2 separate regions of the Homo sapiens genome follow, and region 1 is reported to be linked to region 2. The links are microRNA targets in miRTarBase. Many come from high-throughput screens and were not tested one by one. Region 2 holds a microRNA gene; the other region holds the end of a gene's coding sequence.
The links. The annotated mature microRNA hsa-miR-205-5p reads UCCUUCAUUCCACCGGAGUCUG and lies in region 2 at 2,341-2,362, opposite strand. An mRNA with a match to its seed (bases 2 to 7 or 8) in the 3' UTR can be bound and repressed. Matches are read on the target gene's strand: a 7mer-m8 pairs with bases 2 to 8, a 7mer-A1 pairs with bases 2 to 7 and ends in A, and an 8mer does both.

Region 1 (8,248 bases), not on the chromosome of region 2:
TGCAGACAGCCGCTTCTGACTCGGTTTGTGCCCAGATCCCGGCGGCCTTCGTAGGCCCGAAACCTCCTCCAGCCCAGCTCTCCAGGCCCACCAGTGGCCTCGCAGCAGCCTCCCCGGGCCCAGCTCTTGCCTCACGGCGGCCTTCCCCGTCCGTGTTCCTGCCGGCCTCCCGGCGGCCTCGACAAGCCCAGCGCCTGCCTCACACTGGGCTCTTGAGGCCCAGCTGACGCCTCACGGTGGCCTCTCCAGGCCCAGCTGCCGCCCGCCCCAACAGCATCTCCTGGCCCAAGGCTATTTCAAGTGGGCCCCTCCAGGGCCCAGCTGCTGCACCCCAACCAATGGCCTGTGCAAACCCAAAGCGTCTTGAAGTTGGCCTCGCCAGGCCCAGCTCCTGCCTGTCGTAGGCCTCTGGACTTGAGGCACGGCCTCTGCCTCCTCACAGTGGACCCCCGCCAGGCCCAGCTCTTGCCTCAGCGTGGCCGCCTCAGGCCAGGCTTGTGTTCTGCCTGTGGGCAGCCTCCACGGGCCCAGCTCTCGCCTCTGGCCATCCTCTCCAGGCCCAGAAGTGTTTCCAGCCAGCCTCTCCAGGCCCAGAACTGTTTCCAGCCAGCCTCTCCAGGCCCAGCTCTCCCTCCCGGCTGCGCCTGCCGGCCCAGCTCCTGCCTCGCAACAGCCACGTTCGGCTCAGCTCCTGCCCAGCTCCTGGCAGCCTTTGTAGGCCCCAGGCTCCTCGAAGTGAGGCCTCTCAGGCCCCACCTTCGGCTCCCCGGCGGCCTGGAGAGGCGCAGCTCCTCGTGACAGCGGCCTCTCCGGGCCCGGCTCGTGCCTCACGTCGGTCTCCCCAGGCCACGTTGCCACCTGCCTCGCGGCAGCCCCGACAGACCTGGCTCTTGCCTCCCGACGGCCTCTTTGGGCTCATCTCGTGCCTCACCGTGACCTCCCCCAGGCCAGGCTCCTGCTTTTTGGCGGCCTCCGCAGGCCCGGCTCCTGCATCCCGATGACCTCTTTAGGCCTGGCTCATCCCTCTGAACGGCCTCTTTCAGAGGCCCGGCTTTTCCCTCGTGGCAGCCTCTGCAGGCCCAAGTTGGCAAGCCACCACCACGGCCCGGTGGCTGCCTCCCAGCCTACTCTCCAGGCCCAGCACTCTCTCGCGGCTGCGCCTCCATGCCCAGCCCCAGCCTGCAGACAGCTGCTTCTGACTCGGCTCGTGCCCAGATCCCGGCAGCATTCGTACGACCAAAACCTCCTCCAGCCCAGCTCTCCAGGCCCACCTGTGGCCTCGCAGTGGCCTCCCCGGGGCCAGATCTTGCCTCACGGTGGCCTTCCCCGGCCGTGTTCCTGCCAGCCTCCCAGCGGCCTCGACAAGCCCATCGCATGCCTCTCACTGGGCTCTGGAGGTCCAGCTCAAGCCTCACGGTGGCCTCTCCAGGCCCAGCTCCCGCCCGCCCCGACGGCGTCTCCCGGCCAAGGGTTTCTCAAGTGGGCCCCTCCAGGGCCCAGCTGCTGCCCCCCGGCCGATGGCCTGTGCGGGCCCAAAGTGTCCTGAAGTCGGCCTCGCCAGGCCCAGCTCCTGCCTGTCGTAGGCCCCTGGACTTGAGGCACGGCCTCTGCCTCCTCACAGTGGACCCCCACCAGGCCCAGCTCTTGCCTCAGCATGGCCGCCTCAGGCCAGGCTCGTGTTCTGCCTGTGGGCAGCCTCCACGGGCCCGGCTCTCGCCTCTGGCCATCCTCTCCAGGCCCAGAAGTGTTTCCAGCCAGCCTCTCCAGGCCCAGCTCTCCTTGCCGGCTGCGCCTGCCGGCCCAGCTCCTGCCTCGCAACAGCCACGTTCGGCCCAGCTCCTGCCCAGCTCCTGGCAGCCTTTGTAGGCCCCAGGCTCCTCGAAGTGAGGCCTCTCAGGCCCCGCCTTCGGCTCCCTGGCGGCCTGAAGAGTCCCAGCCACTGCCTGACAGCGGTTTCTCCGTGGGTGCCAGTAATCCCAGCTGCTCGGGAGGCTAAGGCAGGAGAATTTCTTGATCCCGTGAGGCGGAGTGTACAATGTTAAAAGTTTCCTTTTCAAAGTTTCCCTTCTTCATAAAGAATAAATCATAAGTTTTAGAAATAATTTTTTAAAAATTAGCTTCCTTGAGACCTCCTTGCTTTGTGCTAATAACTGTTAAGCCCTATACTGTGTAGCTGTTAGATAGAAAAGAGTAAGTACAGTCTATGTCCTTGTACTTTAAACAATATATTTGTGCTACACATGCTTACAGGCACATAGTACAGTCTATGTTCTTGTACTTAAACCAAGGTATGTTTGCTGGCTGTGCTCACAGGGATGTCTTAGCTTGCTGCGTTCCTTATTTTGGAATGTCCTTTTTTTTTTTTTTTTGACAGTCTCTCACTCTGTTGCCCAGGCTGGGGTGCAGTGGCACAGTCTCAGCTCCCTGCAACCTCTGCCTCCCAGGTTCAAGCGATTCACCTGCCTCACCCTCCCAAGTAGCTGGGACTACAGGCGTGTGCCACCATGCCCAGCTAATTTTTTGTATTTTTTTAGTAGAGACACGGTTTCACCGTGTTAGCCAGGATGGCCTCGATCTCCTGACCTCGTGATCCGCCCACCTCAGCCTCCCAAACTGCTGGGATTACAGGTGTGAGCCACCGCGTCCGGCAGGAAATGTTATAACTTTTCTATGTCTTTTCATAAGCAACTTCCTCTTTTTCTTTATTCTCCATTAGTTTTACCTATTTAGCAGTGTTTTAAGTTGTTAGCCAATCAGGTTCAGTTTAAATTGTAATTTCTAGCTCCAGTCAATGGAGACAACACACAGTAGCAAGGACAAGCTGCATAAAGGATAAAAATTGCTTCCCTCTTTTCTCCAGAAAGTAAAATTACCTTACTGAGAAAACTTCTTTGTCTAAATGCTGATTTTTCCTTGCAGTACTGGGGAAGAAGCATTTTGTTTCTGAATAAACATTTTACTCATAACACAGAGGTTGCAGTGAGCCGAGAGCTTGCCACTGCGCTCCAGCCTGGGCGACAAAGCGAGACTCCGTCTCAACAAAACAAAAAACAAAGACTGGTTCTTGGCTTCCCGTGGCAAAGGCCTTGGCCACATCATTTTGGTCCTTAACACCATACATGCAGCCACTGGTCTTTTTTTCCTCACAGAGGAGGACAGGAGTTCTGTGTGAGGAGGTGGCCAGAAGGATGGGAGGACGGATAATTGGAGCTTGGAAGTAGACGTGTGGTGAGTTTCATCCACACTGACAACTTCCTGATGGAGTTCTGGGTGGCAGAAATGGTGCTGGGAGATGCTGTTTCTCCTCCATGTCCCTATCATCCCCCCTCCTACTCACCACCACCCCATCTCTGGTCTTTAGCATCCGAGTGGTCCCTGCCTTCACGTCACTCCTAGTTCGTGTGCACCTGCAGCTCAGGCATTGCTGGGAAGCTGACTAGAAAATGCAGAATCTGGGCCGGGTGCGGTGGCTCACGCCTGTAATCCCAGCACTTTGGGAGGGCAAGGCGGGCAGATTACTTGAGGTTAGGAGTTTGAGACCAGCTTGACCAACATGGAGAAACCCCATCTACTATACAAAAATTATCTGGCTGTGGTAGTGGCGTGCATGTAGTCCCATCTACTTGGGAGGCTGAGGCAGAACTGCTTGAACCTGGGCCAGAGAGGTTGCAGTGAGCCGAGATCACACCACTGCACTCCAGCTTGGGCGACAGAGCAAGACTCCGTCTCAAAATAAAATAAAAATTTAAATTAAAAAAATCAGAATCTGGGCCCAGCAGCAGGCTCCAGGGACCCCCCTGCCAACCCGTCCTTGGTGGAGTGTGAGCAGCCTTGGCCACCGTGTCACCATCCTGCTCAGCTCCTGGGACGCCCTGTTCCTGCCATCCACAAGCTCTTCAGCCTGTCTGCTCCGGCAGCTGCCTATGACGCCCATCCCACCCTCCCTGCTGGTTGAAATCCTGCCCAGCCTGCAGAGCCAGAGCGTATGCCATCTCCTCCTCCTCCTTTTCCCTCCTCCTAGAGATCTTGATAGGGGAAGTCCTCCTTGATGCTCTGCCAAGACATGAAGTAACCTTGCCCTCCTCTGGAGTCCCACGGTACTTCCTCTGTGTTTGTCTTGTGGATTCTCAGTACCTGACTCGTCTTTAGCCCTGGAAGGCAGGAGCTAGAGGGTGAATAGCCCAGGGACGGCCAGTATCTCCAGGCCCCTTCATCATCATCTGAAAGAATCTAGGATATTCTACATTCCAGGTCCTCCCTTTAGGATGCTAGAGCTGAATTTCTGAGATGGAACCAGAAATGCGCTTTTTTTTTTTTTTTTTTTTTTTTTTGGGACAGGTCTCTCTCTGTCTCCCAGGCTGGAGTGTAGTGGCACAGTCACAGCTCACAGCAACCTCAAGCTCCTGGGCTCAAGCAGTCCTCCCACCTTAGTGGGAGTATCCTGAGTGAACTCTCTGGGAGGTTCTTAAGGGGTAGCCCCTGGTTTATGGAGAGAGGTAGTGACCACCCTCAACCAAGACACAACCTGACTTAGCTTGAGTCCCAGGTCCTGTCAGGGTTGTTGCAAGGATCCCATAAAATGGCAAATGTACCCCAAATACAGCCAGCATAGTGCTCTGCATATAGAACCACCAGGAGGAAACAATGCTAAAGTACCACGCTCAGAGTTCTGCTCTCTACAGCAGTGAAAAACAAAAACACCGAATTATCCACCCTCAAGGTTATCCAGCTGTGAAAAGAATGGCAGGGCACAGTGGCTCATGCGTGTAATCCCAACACTTTGGGAGGCCGAGGTGGGAGGATTGATTGAGGCCAGGAGGACCAGCCTGGGCAACAGAGCAAGTCCTCCCACCCTGATATCTTGTTTTTTTTTTTTTTTTTGAGACGGAGTCTGGCTCTGTCGCCCAGGCTGGAGTGCAGTGGTGCAATCTTGGCTCACTGCAAGCTTCGCCCCCCAGGTTCATGCCATTCTCCTGCCTCAGCCTCCTGAGGAGGTGGGACTATAGGCACCCGCCACCACGCCCAGCTAATTTTTTGTATTTTTAGTAGAGAAGGGGTTTCACCGTGTTAGCCAGGATGGTCTCGATCTCCTGACCTCGTGATCTGCCTGCCTCGGCCTCCCAAAGTGCTGGGATTACAGGCGTGAGCCACCGCGCCCGGTCACCCCCACCCCGGTCTCTACAAAAAATTATAAAATTAGCCGGGCGTGGTGGCAGGCACCCATAGTCCCAGCTACTGGGGAGGCTGAGGTGGGAGGATCGCTTGAGCCCAGGGGTTGGAGGCTGCAGTGAGCCATGATCACACCACTGCACTCCAGCCTGTGCGACAGAGACCCTGTCTCTAAAGAAAAATTTAGAAAAGTGACAAGGGCAAATACACACAGTGAAAGAAGTGGGGGGCAGCTCATCTCCATAAATGGCCATCAGAGTCAGGTCTCCCGCAGCCACACCCTTGTGTGGTTCCTGCCCATGTCATTGGGGGCCTTGTAACTTACTCTAACCTAGAGAATGCAGCGCAAGCGAAGCTGGGCCAGTTCTCAGCCCAAGCCTTAGAGCCTGGCAGCTTCTGCTTTTGCTTGTGGGAACTGAGTCATTCAACAAACATATGGACCTTGCTGTAGATGCGTTGTGAAGAATGAGAGGCCCAAGACCTCGGGGAAAAGGCCAGCTGTCCGGGCATCTCCCAAACACCAGCCTCGCGTGCTCCAGTCCAGCCAAGCCTCCAGTGACTGCAGTGGGAGCTGTGGGCATGTAACCACCCAGCTGAGTCCTGTCAACCCCCAGCGTCGGGAGATAGGAACAGAAATAGCCTAAAAGCCACCAGAGTGGAGAGGGCTGGGATTGTTACAGTAGCAGATAACCTGCAGAGCAGGCTTCATTCTCTCAACCTATGAAATATGCAAGAGAGGACAAGTATTACCAGTAGTTCCTTTCCCGCTTTATTTTTTAGCTGCTTTTTGGGTTTTATACAATGAACATGTATTAATTGTAGAAGAAAACGATGTCATCCTTTATGATAAAATCCATTTCCATTTTAGCTTTTTTAAAAAAACAAAAAGCTGTTGTGGACAGATGAACATCCAAGTACTGGGCACACCTCCAGCCCTCCCTCTTCCACTGAAGGCCATTGCCTATTCCTAGAAAGTTCTTTCCCAGGTATGCAGCTTTCAGTTTCCACTTCAGAGGCCACAGTGTCTGGGGAACGGACTGCCCCCAATACTAAAGGGAGTCAAATCTCTTTAATTCCGCACTCCTCAGTACAACAAGAAGTCCCTTCTTTAGGCCACTGATGGAAACCTGGAACCCCCTTTTGATGGCAGCATGGCGTCCTAGGCCTTGACACAGCGGCTGGGGTTTGGGCTGTCCCAAACCGCACACCCCAACCCTGGTCTACCCACAGTTCTGGCTATGGGCTGTCTCTGCCACTGAACATCAGGGTTCGGTCAGAAGATGAAATCCCAAGGGGGACAGAGGTCAGTAGAGGAAGCTCAATGAGAAAGGTGCTGTTTGCTCAGCCAGAAAACAGCTGCCTGGCATTCGCCGCTGAACTATGAACCCGTGGGGGTGAACTACCCCCAGGAGGAATCAGGCCTGGGCGATGCAAGGGTGCCAACAGGAGGGGCGGGAGGAGCATGTACGGGTAAACTGAATACTGTGTCCAATTCCATAAATTAACAATTTAGACTTTCTTGAAGCTACTGATGAAAGCGTCACGCTTCAGTCTAACAGTTAAACATCATCTAATTCTGATTGGTAATGAAGAGGTAGCAGACACTCTAAAGTTGGCTCTCACAGGGAAGAAAGCACAGCATTTACAGAAGGGACCTTGAAAAATAAAATCAAGGACGGCTTTTATTGATGCGCCCACAGAGCCACCCACAATTTGGAAGGCATGATGATGTCAATACAGTAATCATCACCAAAGCAAATTAAAATACAAAGTTTATCTGCAACGGCTTTGCAGTGACATGATGCCTTCATAAATTAAGGAAACTGGCCACCCGTCACAGCGGCTCACTTCAGGGTCTTCACGAAATCTTCCCCCTTCTTGATGGAGGCCTTCAGCTCGGGGATGGCATCCGAGATCATCTTCTCCTCAAAAGAGGAGACTTTGCCGATGCCCAGGTTCTTCTCGATGCCCTTTTTCTGAGGGAGATGGGAACATGTTAAAATGAAGTTTCCAGGAAAGTGCTTGTTAGAGAAACCCCGACCTGTCGCTCCATCAGCCCTGCCGAGGAGTCTCTCTACACATGCGGGTTCTGGGTGCCTTGCTGGGGACGCCTTGCTGAGCAGGTGGGTGGGACTGAGCTGCGGTCAGGAGTGCGAGGCTCAGAGCCAGAGGGTGCCAGGCAGGGGTCCCAGCACTGTGATTGTCTAGGCAGGTACCCTGGACAATGACTGACCTTCCAAATGTGTTTCCTTAGCTATAAAACAAGCACCATCCACCTTCGTGAACACGAGGACAATGCGACAAGCACCTGGACGCCAGGAACTCAATCATCAGGAACACTTCACCGTATTCTCCCCAACAGAGCCTGTTTCTGGGTTCTTGTCTCTCCCCGCAGGTTGGTAAAGGACTGAAAACATTGTCACAGTCACCTGAATCAGGTGTCACTAAGTAGGTAAATGTCTGACATTGGCAAAAACAGGCATCTCTGCCACCGTCTCACCTGCAGAAACTGAGCACAGTTTGTGTGGCAACAGCCTCAGTCCTCACCTCAACTCAATTCCCTCCTACTGCTTCCCCTGGCTCAAGGGCCTATGAGAACCGGGTGCGTCTCACCTGCAGGCCCTGCCATTCCATACACCTGCACCGACATGGGGACAGAACTATACCATCGAGTGCCTGTCTCTCACCAAGGCCTGGGGCCATAGCTGAAGGATCTTTCTGTATCGGAGCATCTCTGAGAAAGGTCCTGGGGTGGCCCAGTGAGCCATATTACTTTCTGGCCACGTGATGAAGGCAACCACACATCTGCCTCATTTCTGCCCACAGGTGAGAAATGGAAACTCGGCTTGAGGGGGTATGAGTAAGACCTAAGGGTTTCTGTTTGCTGAAGACTCAGGCTGTCTGGATGGGGCACACTCTCGAAGAGGAATTGGGCCTGGCCGCCCCCCGCAGTCAGAACAAGATGAACAAGGAGCGACAGGGAGGTGTTCAGGCGGGGTAGGGAGGCCTCCCTGGGCTGCCTGGAGATGGAGTGTCTTATCAGTCAATACTCCTGCAGCTGCTGGGCACCCGCTGTCAA
Region 2 (8,394 bases):
AAGATTGTGAATAATGAAAGCAGGGTAATATTATTTTGTTGTTGTTGTTGTTGCAAGGGAATTTTGATGAAACCATTTTCTCTGTGTTGTGTTTTTGGCGAGTCATGCTTTGCAATGAAGACATGAGACATAAAAGAGTGGGGGTTGGACATAGAAGATGGATGAGCAGCTTGCTCCAGCTCTGGGCACACACTGGCTTCCCTGGCAAGCTGCTCTGGGCCAGGCTTGGGGCTTTCTTTTTCTGCAAGAGGGAATAAGCAATCTGTGCTGCATTGGTGGGAGGAAGTGGGCAGTTCAGACCTTGGTGCCAGAAATACCAAGCCCTGTGCCTCTCTTGTGAAGATAGCATTTGCATGGGACTTTGGGTGTGGGGGAACCCAACAGCACATCAGGTAGAACCTTTTGTAGTCACAGCATTGTGCCCTGGCTAGTGTTTGACAGTCTACCCTCTGGTCACCATTGTTGGCCATTTTGGTTCCTGCCTCCACCTGGGCCAGGTGGCACATAAATACACAAGCACTTATCTCCTATAAAAAGATTCCAGGTCATAGGGCTCAAACCAAGCTGCAAATAAAAGTGCCACATCGTGTCTGTCGTGTGCTTTTTGTTCTGATCTCAGGGCTTGTTTCAGACCTTGAATGGGAGGTGTTTGCTGGTTAACTAGGAGTTTGCTGGACAAACAGCACCCCACAGTTGGATTTGCTACGCAATTTTTATGAGTAAACATGTTTTTAAAAAATGCCTGTGGCTTGGCTTCTTCATCCTTTTGTTGCCTGTGGGTCTTGGAATGAAGGGGTGGGGGTGACAGAAACTAGGTTTTAAATCTGTATTAACTTGACACAGAAAAATATTTTGGAGAAAGGTTTATTCCTTTTAGTTCCTGCTGGCAATCTGGGACCCTCAGGGGTCAAAAACCAGGGAAGGGTTGGGGGAAGGTGAAGAGACCTATCCCCCTCAGAGGTCACTGGCTGGGGGGCAGGGCTTGGCCATTCAAGTGATCGGTATCCATCTGCAAAGCTGGAATCTCCTTTAGAGTGAGCTCCTAAGAAAAACACCACTCAGCCAAGGAGAGCTATTGTATTTTGCTGCCTGGGGCACATTCTGGAGGTGAAAACCGGTTTTTCTGAAGACTTGTCAGGGCCAGGCTTTGTTCAGAATCTGCCAATTTAGCCAGACTGGCTCCTTAAAGGAGACCCCTTTACCTGAGGCAGGGGCCAATTATAAAAAAGGCTTGTGGATGGCATTCCCTTCATAACTGGGTTGGACTTCCTTCAGACTTAGGAACTTTCTCTTGTTCCACACCTTCTCCTTCCTTAAAAAGGAGAAACATGGAGTAACACACACACACACACACACACACACACACACACACACGCACACCCAATCACACTGAATTGTAAAGAGAATGAAATCAGTGCTAAATCTATCAAAGCGTATCATAGACCCTGACAGCTGAGAGGTATTATTTGCTTTTTTCCTCCCAGATTTCTACCGAGCCTGGTGTTTTAAGCTATGTCTTGGGGAGAAGAGACCCATAGAAAGGCAATTACAATTGGTGAATGATTAATGTTGGATCTGACATTTTTATGTGTCAAATATGTTTAACTGCATTAACCTTTGCAGAATCTACACCCATACTATGAGATATATCTTGTATAGCATCGGAAATATCTGCAATCTGCCTTCACTTAAATTTTATTTACATTTACTTTATTACAATATAAATAGGTTTAAAAAATCTTTAATAGAGTGTTTTTACCCCATTCTGCAAGTTCTGCTTGCTCTGTGGGGAGTCTAAGGGCAGCAGGGTTCCTTGCTGATTGCAAATAGTGTCCCAGCCACCTGCCTGGGGACCCTAAAGAGAGAGGAAGCCAGTGTCAATTTTTCAAGTTCATGTCTCAGTTTTAGCCTAAAGGGGAGGTGGCTTAGAAGGCCGGGAGTTGGCATCCGATGGTATAAAACATAGAGGCAGAGAGGCTTTTCAGTAGACAAGCAACTTTTAGTTTTTACAAGTTACAGAAAACGCAAATTTTCATAGCATCAATTTTAGAAAAGAAAGATTAAGGTTCCCATCTGCGGTGCTTTTTCCAATCTGCCCATCACCCGTCCCTCTGAAGAAGCACGCACACTCCAGATGTCTCCTTCATTGATCACATTTCTCTCTGGCTGTCTCTATTCCTAAGTCAGAGTTACTCTTGCTGCTGCTGCTGCTGCTGCTGCTGCTGCTGCTGCTGCTACGGTGGTGGCGGCGGCGGTGGTGGCGGTGGCTGCCGAGGCCTCATGGTTGTCAGCTCCATGCCTCCTGAACTTCACTCCACTGAAATCTGGTTGGGTATGAGACAGACTCCGGTGGAATGAAGGACAAGAGAAGCACATGGATTGTCTGAGGATCTTTTTCTCAGAGGGTGGGGATGCATGTCAACCTCAGCCTGTAGACACTGCATTACCTGGCCAAAGGCCTTTGGCATCCCGGAATCACACATTTGGGAGATGTCAAGGACCTGAATACTCCTACCCCTCCCATAGGATCACATCCTCCAAGGAGGCTGCAGAGAGCTAGTTCAACACGTCCTTGCACCTGCTGCACAGACAGACAGTGCTGAGTTGGGGAGGTGGGTCTGTGGGGCCAGGGACTCTTGACTGTTTCTCGTTTTCAAAACAGCCACCCAGATAAGTCCATGTGGAACCTCCTCTGTGTTTACCTAGTTGGGATGTCGGTCACCCTCTCCCTTTGTCTAGGTCCCACTGTGTGTGCCATAACTGAGCTCGGTGTGGTTGGTCCTTTCTAGAGGAAACAAAGAAAAAGCAGGTGTTCTGCAATTGCTTTAGAAAAATCCAGCTACTCTGAGCTTGCTTACCAAGGCCTTGGAATGCAGGGGCATGGGCATTCCTCTCCACAAGGCACTGTCCAAAGAGCACGAAGAGCACTTTGCAACCCCGTTTGCCAATGTGAAATCCAGAAGAGATAGGTGAGGAGCTCAGGAAAAACCACAACTCCTGGCTGGAGCCAGGCCCATTCATGGGGGTGGGTGGACAGAGGAGGGTAAGACTCCTTGTTCTCACTCCTAAAGACTTATCTAGGAAGGACAGCCTCCAATGGCCCCACATCCTCCCCAAGATGTGCCTGGAAAATGATTCAACTATTTCTTTGTTGGTCATGAGGATGGAGGATTTAGGGAGGAAGAAAGCAAGCTAACCTGGCTTTCATAGACTGAGTCAAATAGGAAGGACGCAAAGTATCTAAGAGTTTTCTGCTCTGTCTTAAAAGAAATGCCCATCAACCCTTTGCGTGCTGTTGCTGCTCTGGCCTCTTCCTTGTTGTGTTCAGACATGCCCATGGCTCAGTGCAAGCCCCATAAAAGGCTGTTCTCAGCACCAACATGCAGGCTGGATGGGTTGGGGCAGATGCACCTTGTTGTTTGAAATACTTTCTTCCTGGGGCTTGTTCTGACCCGAAGCAGGGAGGCAGTTTCTCGTATGTGGCTCCTCCCCACGCATCTAGCCTTCTGGGCATTGGGTCTCTCTGAAAAAGGCCCTTAAGCAAGGGCTTGAGGTTTCTAGCTAGTGCTGAGAAGGAGTCACACTCTCCTTGGTCTGAATGTAAAGACTCTTTGCCAGGGTGAACACGGGGCTTGTTGGCAGGCAGAGATCTGGGTAGTGAGGGGAAGAAGACTGGTTCATCTTCTCCTGCTCTGCCTTCTTGATAAACACTCACAGTTCTCAATAATGAGAGGAAAATGCACCCTGCTTGTGAATTATCTGGACCAGATCCTCCTCCTGCACCGCCTTTGACCCATTCCCAGTCAAAGGGAAGAAAGAGGCCAGTCTGTTGGCTGTAATAAATAAATGATGGCCTGGGATGGTAGGAGGAAATGATGCCAGGAAGGCAAGATTCTTTGCCTTCTCTTTAGATTTCTGCTTAACTCCAAGAGCAAAAGGGGCAGTCAATTCTTCTCCCTCCAGACCCTCGGCACCCCGCTCTTCCCCTCCCAACATGTACAGTCCACTAGATTATTAAAGTCCTCACTCTGGAGTGTGCAGAGAGCCTCACCCTCATGTGGGGTCCGTACCCTCCAAGATGGGTACTTGAGAGATGACAGTGTCTGCAAAAAGCAAATGGGAGGTGGCATTAATGTCAGAGAGCCCCAGAAAGGTGAGTTCTTTCCTTATCACTCTCCCCTTGCTTTACAGACCTGTAGCTGCTACAGGCAGAGACAAAAAACCATGAGTCACAACCTGTATCAGGAGACTTGACCTGCTCTGGACTCCTTGTTCAAGATTCTTCTGCCCACTATGCCTTTGCCAACTGAATCCCCCAGTGGCCTTCACCATGGTTACATGGGTCTAGAGCCAAGCACATGCACGATCAGAGAACAAACCATGCATGGGCTCGCTACAGGGTAAGTCCATCCAGTGACCACTTTCTTCCCCCCAGCTGCCCTCAGGATTACGTCCCAAGTGTCTTCATAACATTAAAACCAACTTGAACATGAGACTCAAAGAATGAAACCACGTCCTAAATTTTCCAGTACAGGTGCACCCTGCACCCCAGGACTGAAAAACCAGCCAAATCTCTGTTCTTCTAGTTGAGTAAATCTCCACAAAACCAGACAGAGCTACAATCTTGGTGCTTAAACTGCTCAGCACCCACCTTATCACACCAATTCCTATTATCAGCAGAATTTACTGCCTGGGATCCCTGGAAATCCTTGAGAAAACACCAAAGTGGCTGAGGATTGGTTTAAAATGCAGCAGGTTCAGCTATTTTAGCCTTGGAGGAAGTTGATAATTGACTTGCAGTGAATATGGCATTTTCCAGTCTCCTCTTCCTGCCCAATGAGCCCCCTGATCTAGCCACTCATCTTTGTTTTTCCAAAGTTCCCCAAATCCACAGATTTCAGACTCACCTTTAAGTACGAGTACCTGTGCCTTGAGACATCAGGACCTAGCTTTGAGTTTGCTTCAAAATAAGAATTTTTTTTTTTTGTCATAAGATAATGCAGAACAGAGAGATGGCTACAGCCATGCAGATGAGAAGAAGAAAAGAAATTTCAAATCTTGGATGTTTCTTTTGCCCCTAAGGCTTGAGGACAGGGAACAAAAAATGAGAAACACTTACCCTATATAAAGCACCCAGTTCAGCAGGCCTGTGCGGAACAGAAATGACTCCTGAGGAAAGGTGGGGGCCGGTCCTGAATAGTTGATTTCTCTCTTTAATGAAAAAGAACATGAGGCCGGATGCGGTGGCTCACGCCTGTGATCCCAACACTTTGGGAGGCCGAGGCAGGTGGATTGCTTAAGCTCAGGAGTTCAAGACCAGTCTGGGCAACATGGTGAAACCCCGCCTCTACAAAAAAATACAAAAAATTAGTCAGGCGTGGTGGTGTGCGCTTGTAGTCCCAGCTACTTGAGGGGCTGAGGCAGGAGAATCGCTTGAACCTGGGAGGTTGAGGCTGCAGTGAGCCCAAGATTGAGCCACTGCACTCCTGCCCGGGCGACAAAGTGAGACCCTGTCAGAAAAAAAAAAAAAGTAAGCAGAGGAAAGTGGAATTGAAGGAGAGGGAGTAAAGGTAGCTGGAAAAGAGAGAGTTTGGAGTATGGTTGAGAATTGAGCTGAATTTTTAGAATAGAGATTAGTAACAGACAATAAAAGAGAAACTGGTTTTTCCAAGTCAAGGGTGAGCAAGAGGGACTCAGCCCATTTCAAGGAGGTGGTACTAGTTTCACTCTTTATTTATGCACCTCTCAGCAAAGCTTCAGGTTACCTGCTGAACTCAACCAATGGAGAAAGGGCCTGGCAGCTGGTCCCACCTCTCAGAACCCACACCCCTGGGGGACCATGAATGGAGAGGTCTTTCTGCAGGCTACCCGTACTTTCTCATTGTTGTGTGAACACCAGAAAAGGGAAGTGAGGTCTTTGTCATCCCAGAGTTGGAGAGACACTGCAGGTTATCTGAGCCTTGCACCTGAAGCCTTAGTCCTCCCAGAGACCTACCTAATCGGGGAGAGGGGAATGCTAAGATTTTATCTTGTCCTAAGGAAGCTGAGTGTTTGTGTGTGTGTGTGTGTGTGTGCGCGCGTGTGTGTGCGCGCTTGCTTGCTTGAGCTTTTAGCCTGACCTGAGTTGCTGTCTCTACACAATGCACTTCGGGAATCCAGCAGAGATAGGCCAGTCCATCCAGGCAGAGCTGTAGAAAGAGGCCGGAGGGTCACAGTCGAGGCCCAGCCAGAGGCTTATCCTGGCATTTAGTACAGAGTAAGTCTGCTGCTCCCCTTGTGAGAAGCAAGTGTTTCTTTTATAATCCGAAAGGCTTTGTGACCTGCTTCCCTTTCATGTCTGGGGGTGGGGAAAAGACCACACTGCGAGGGGAAATTAAGGAAAGAGAAGGCAAGCTCATTAGTAACTTTAAAGAGGGCGGTCTATAAACTTGATTATTTTACCCCACCCCCGCTTCCATGCGCAACTTGGGCTCCGCCTCCTGCCCCTCCCCTATCTCTCGGCCCATCTTGCCAGCTTCCCCCTCCCTCGTTCCCCCTTCCAAGTGCACACCTGGAGGGCAAGGGAAGTTGAAGTCTCCTCAAATGTGCCACATTTCACCCAGGATCCTGGCCTGCTTTCCATTTGTTCTCCAGGTAAATCTAGTGTGCAGCGAAGGCAGATTCCTCTATTCTCCAGCGGAAGGGAGGGAACTGAAGAATCCAATCTATAGGACCTCTTAGTGCAGTCCTGTCCCACAGCCCTTCATGGAACTGAATCATGCCTGCCCAAAATCTCCCTAGAAATCAGCTAATCTAAACTTCTTACCGCATAGACTGGGGAACAGAAGTTTTGAAAGGTGAATTTCTGTCTTGCACAGCCAGTGCAGAGTCAAGATTCTAATCTACCTGGATCTCCCAAACCCCATTTAAAAGCCCTTTAAAACAAACCCTACACGTTGTTTTCCCCGGTTCTGGCGGACCTGAAGCTTGTCTGAACTATTCTGGATTCTTCCTGGGAGAAGAAAAGCCTCCACTGGTGAAGAAGAAAAACCAATACAGACCAATAGGAGGAGGGCAGGGAGATCTTCCACGTGATAGCTTCCTTAAGCACCGGACTCCTCCCCTAAACCGTGGAGCTCATGGCTTCCCTGCTGACTGGACCCAGTTTGCCTACACTGAGCCTCAGCTCTCCCATTTCCCAAAAAGTAATGCAGGCAGAGAAGCGAATTGTTCCTGGCCACAGTGATACACCCACATTGTGTGCTGAAGACTCTGGGCCCCCTTCTGACCTTTCCCTGCTCCCTCTCTCCCTCTTCCTTCCAGAATAGCATTCATTCATTCATTCACTTACTCACTCTCCCCATCACGTATCATTCCATGAGCATCGACTCTGTGCCAGGTGAGTGAGAGGCTGCGTTTACCCCCTAGGAGCTCCCAGCCTAGATGGACATCTACAAGAAGAGGCAAAAACATAGGCCAATGAGGAAAAACATGATGAATATCCCCCACAAAGGGAACTGCCGCATTTGTCTGTGAGATTCAGGGAAGGCTCTACAGACAGAGTGACATATTGGAACTGAATCTGAAAAAATGATGGCGGGCTGAGTGTGATGAAGACCTGCGAAAATTCAGGCCTTGAGGGAGGAGCTCTCACATGTTCAGAGCAGCCTGGGGTGCCGGGGACTGGAGAGCGCAGCCATCTTGTGATGGGCCTGTGGATTTCATTCACAGGTCAGGAAGCTCCGGAAGTCTCGAGACAGGGAATGAATGGACCAGAACTGTTTTTCAGAAGCCAGTTAGGACTGGAGGCAGAGCAACTGACTGCTGAGGAATATGACTGCCCCCAAAATATAGGGGAGAGGAGGGTAAGGAGGAGTGCCTAGGGCAGACGATATCAATAGTCCTGCTGGTCATATTCTGTCCCCTTGAGGGTTCATCTTTGACCTCTAAATTTGTTCAGAAAAATGGGATAAACCTATAGATTTATTGATTCTATATCCATCCAATACAGTAAAGAAAGACGACCTGCCCAAAATTATTATTATATTTTCTTCCCTTCAACTTCAGTCACCACAGCCCAGGAGGATGCTCTGTGGACTGACTGGACACTGGTTGGTGTGGAAGGTCTAGAGGGTGGGGGAAGCATATCTGGGTGGCTCTGCTGGAAGTTTCTTCTTCCAGCCCCTCAGCCTGGCTCTTTGTTCCAGAGTCAGCTTGTGAGGCAAAAGCCTTGATGTCCCTCTTCCCCTAGGTTTCTAGTTCCGTGTCTCTGAGAGGCATTCCGCAGAGTCATCCAGGGTGGTGCTGTGCTTGCCTGAGTGTGTCTGGGGTACAGGAGATGGAGATGGGGAGTGGAACAGCGTAGTGTGGTTGGAAGGGGAGGATACAGGGCTTCCTTCCGTCTCCACTGAAGAG

Region 1: miRTarBase lists MDH2 as a target of hsa-miR-205-5p. Seed matches in the 3' UTR shown: 7mer-m8 at 6,974-6,980.

What each region holds. Positions count from the first base shown.
Region 1 is chr7:76,065,176-76,073,423 of GRCh38, reverse strand. MDH2 (malate dehydrogenase 2) reads right to left here. Exons shown (of 9, transcript NM_005918.4): 9 at 5,916-7,145. The coding sequence ends at 7,014. Among named protein-coding and RNA genes, the nearest start is that of MDH2, 21 kb to the right of the region's middle. RefSeq lists enhancers at 1,676-2,200, 7,976-8,025, 8,056-8,125.
Region 2 is chr1:209,426,134-209,434,527 of GRCh38, reverse strand. It overlaps MIR205 (microRNA 205), which reads right to left and starts at 2,395; the gene lies at 2,286-2,395. MIR205HG (MIR205 host gene) reads right to left here and starts at 5,708. Exons shown (of 4, transcript NR_145437.1): 1 at 5,440-5,708; 2 at 5,120-5,347; 3 at 4,052-4,103; 4 at 1,979-2,324. RefSeq lists enhancers at 357-956, 957-1,554, 5,787-6,710.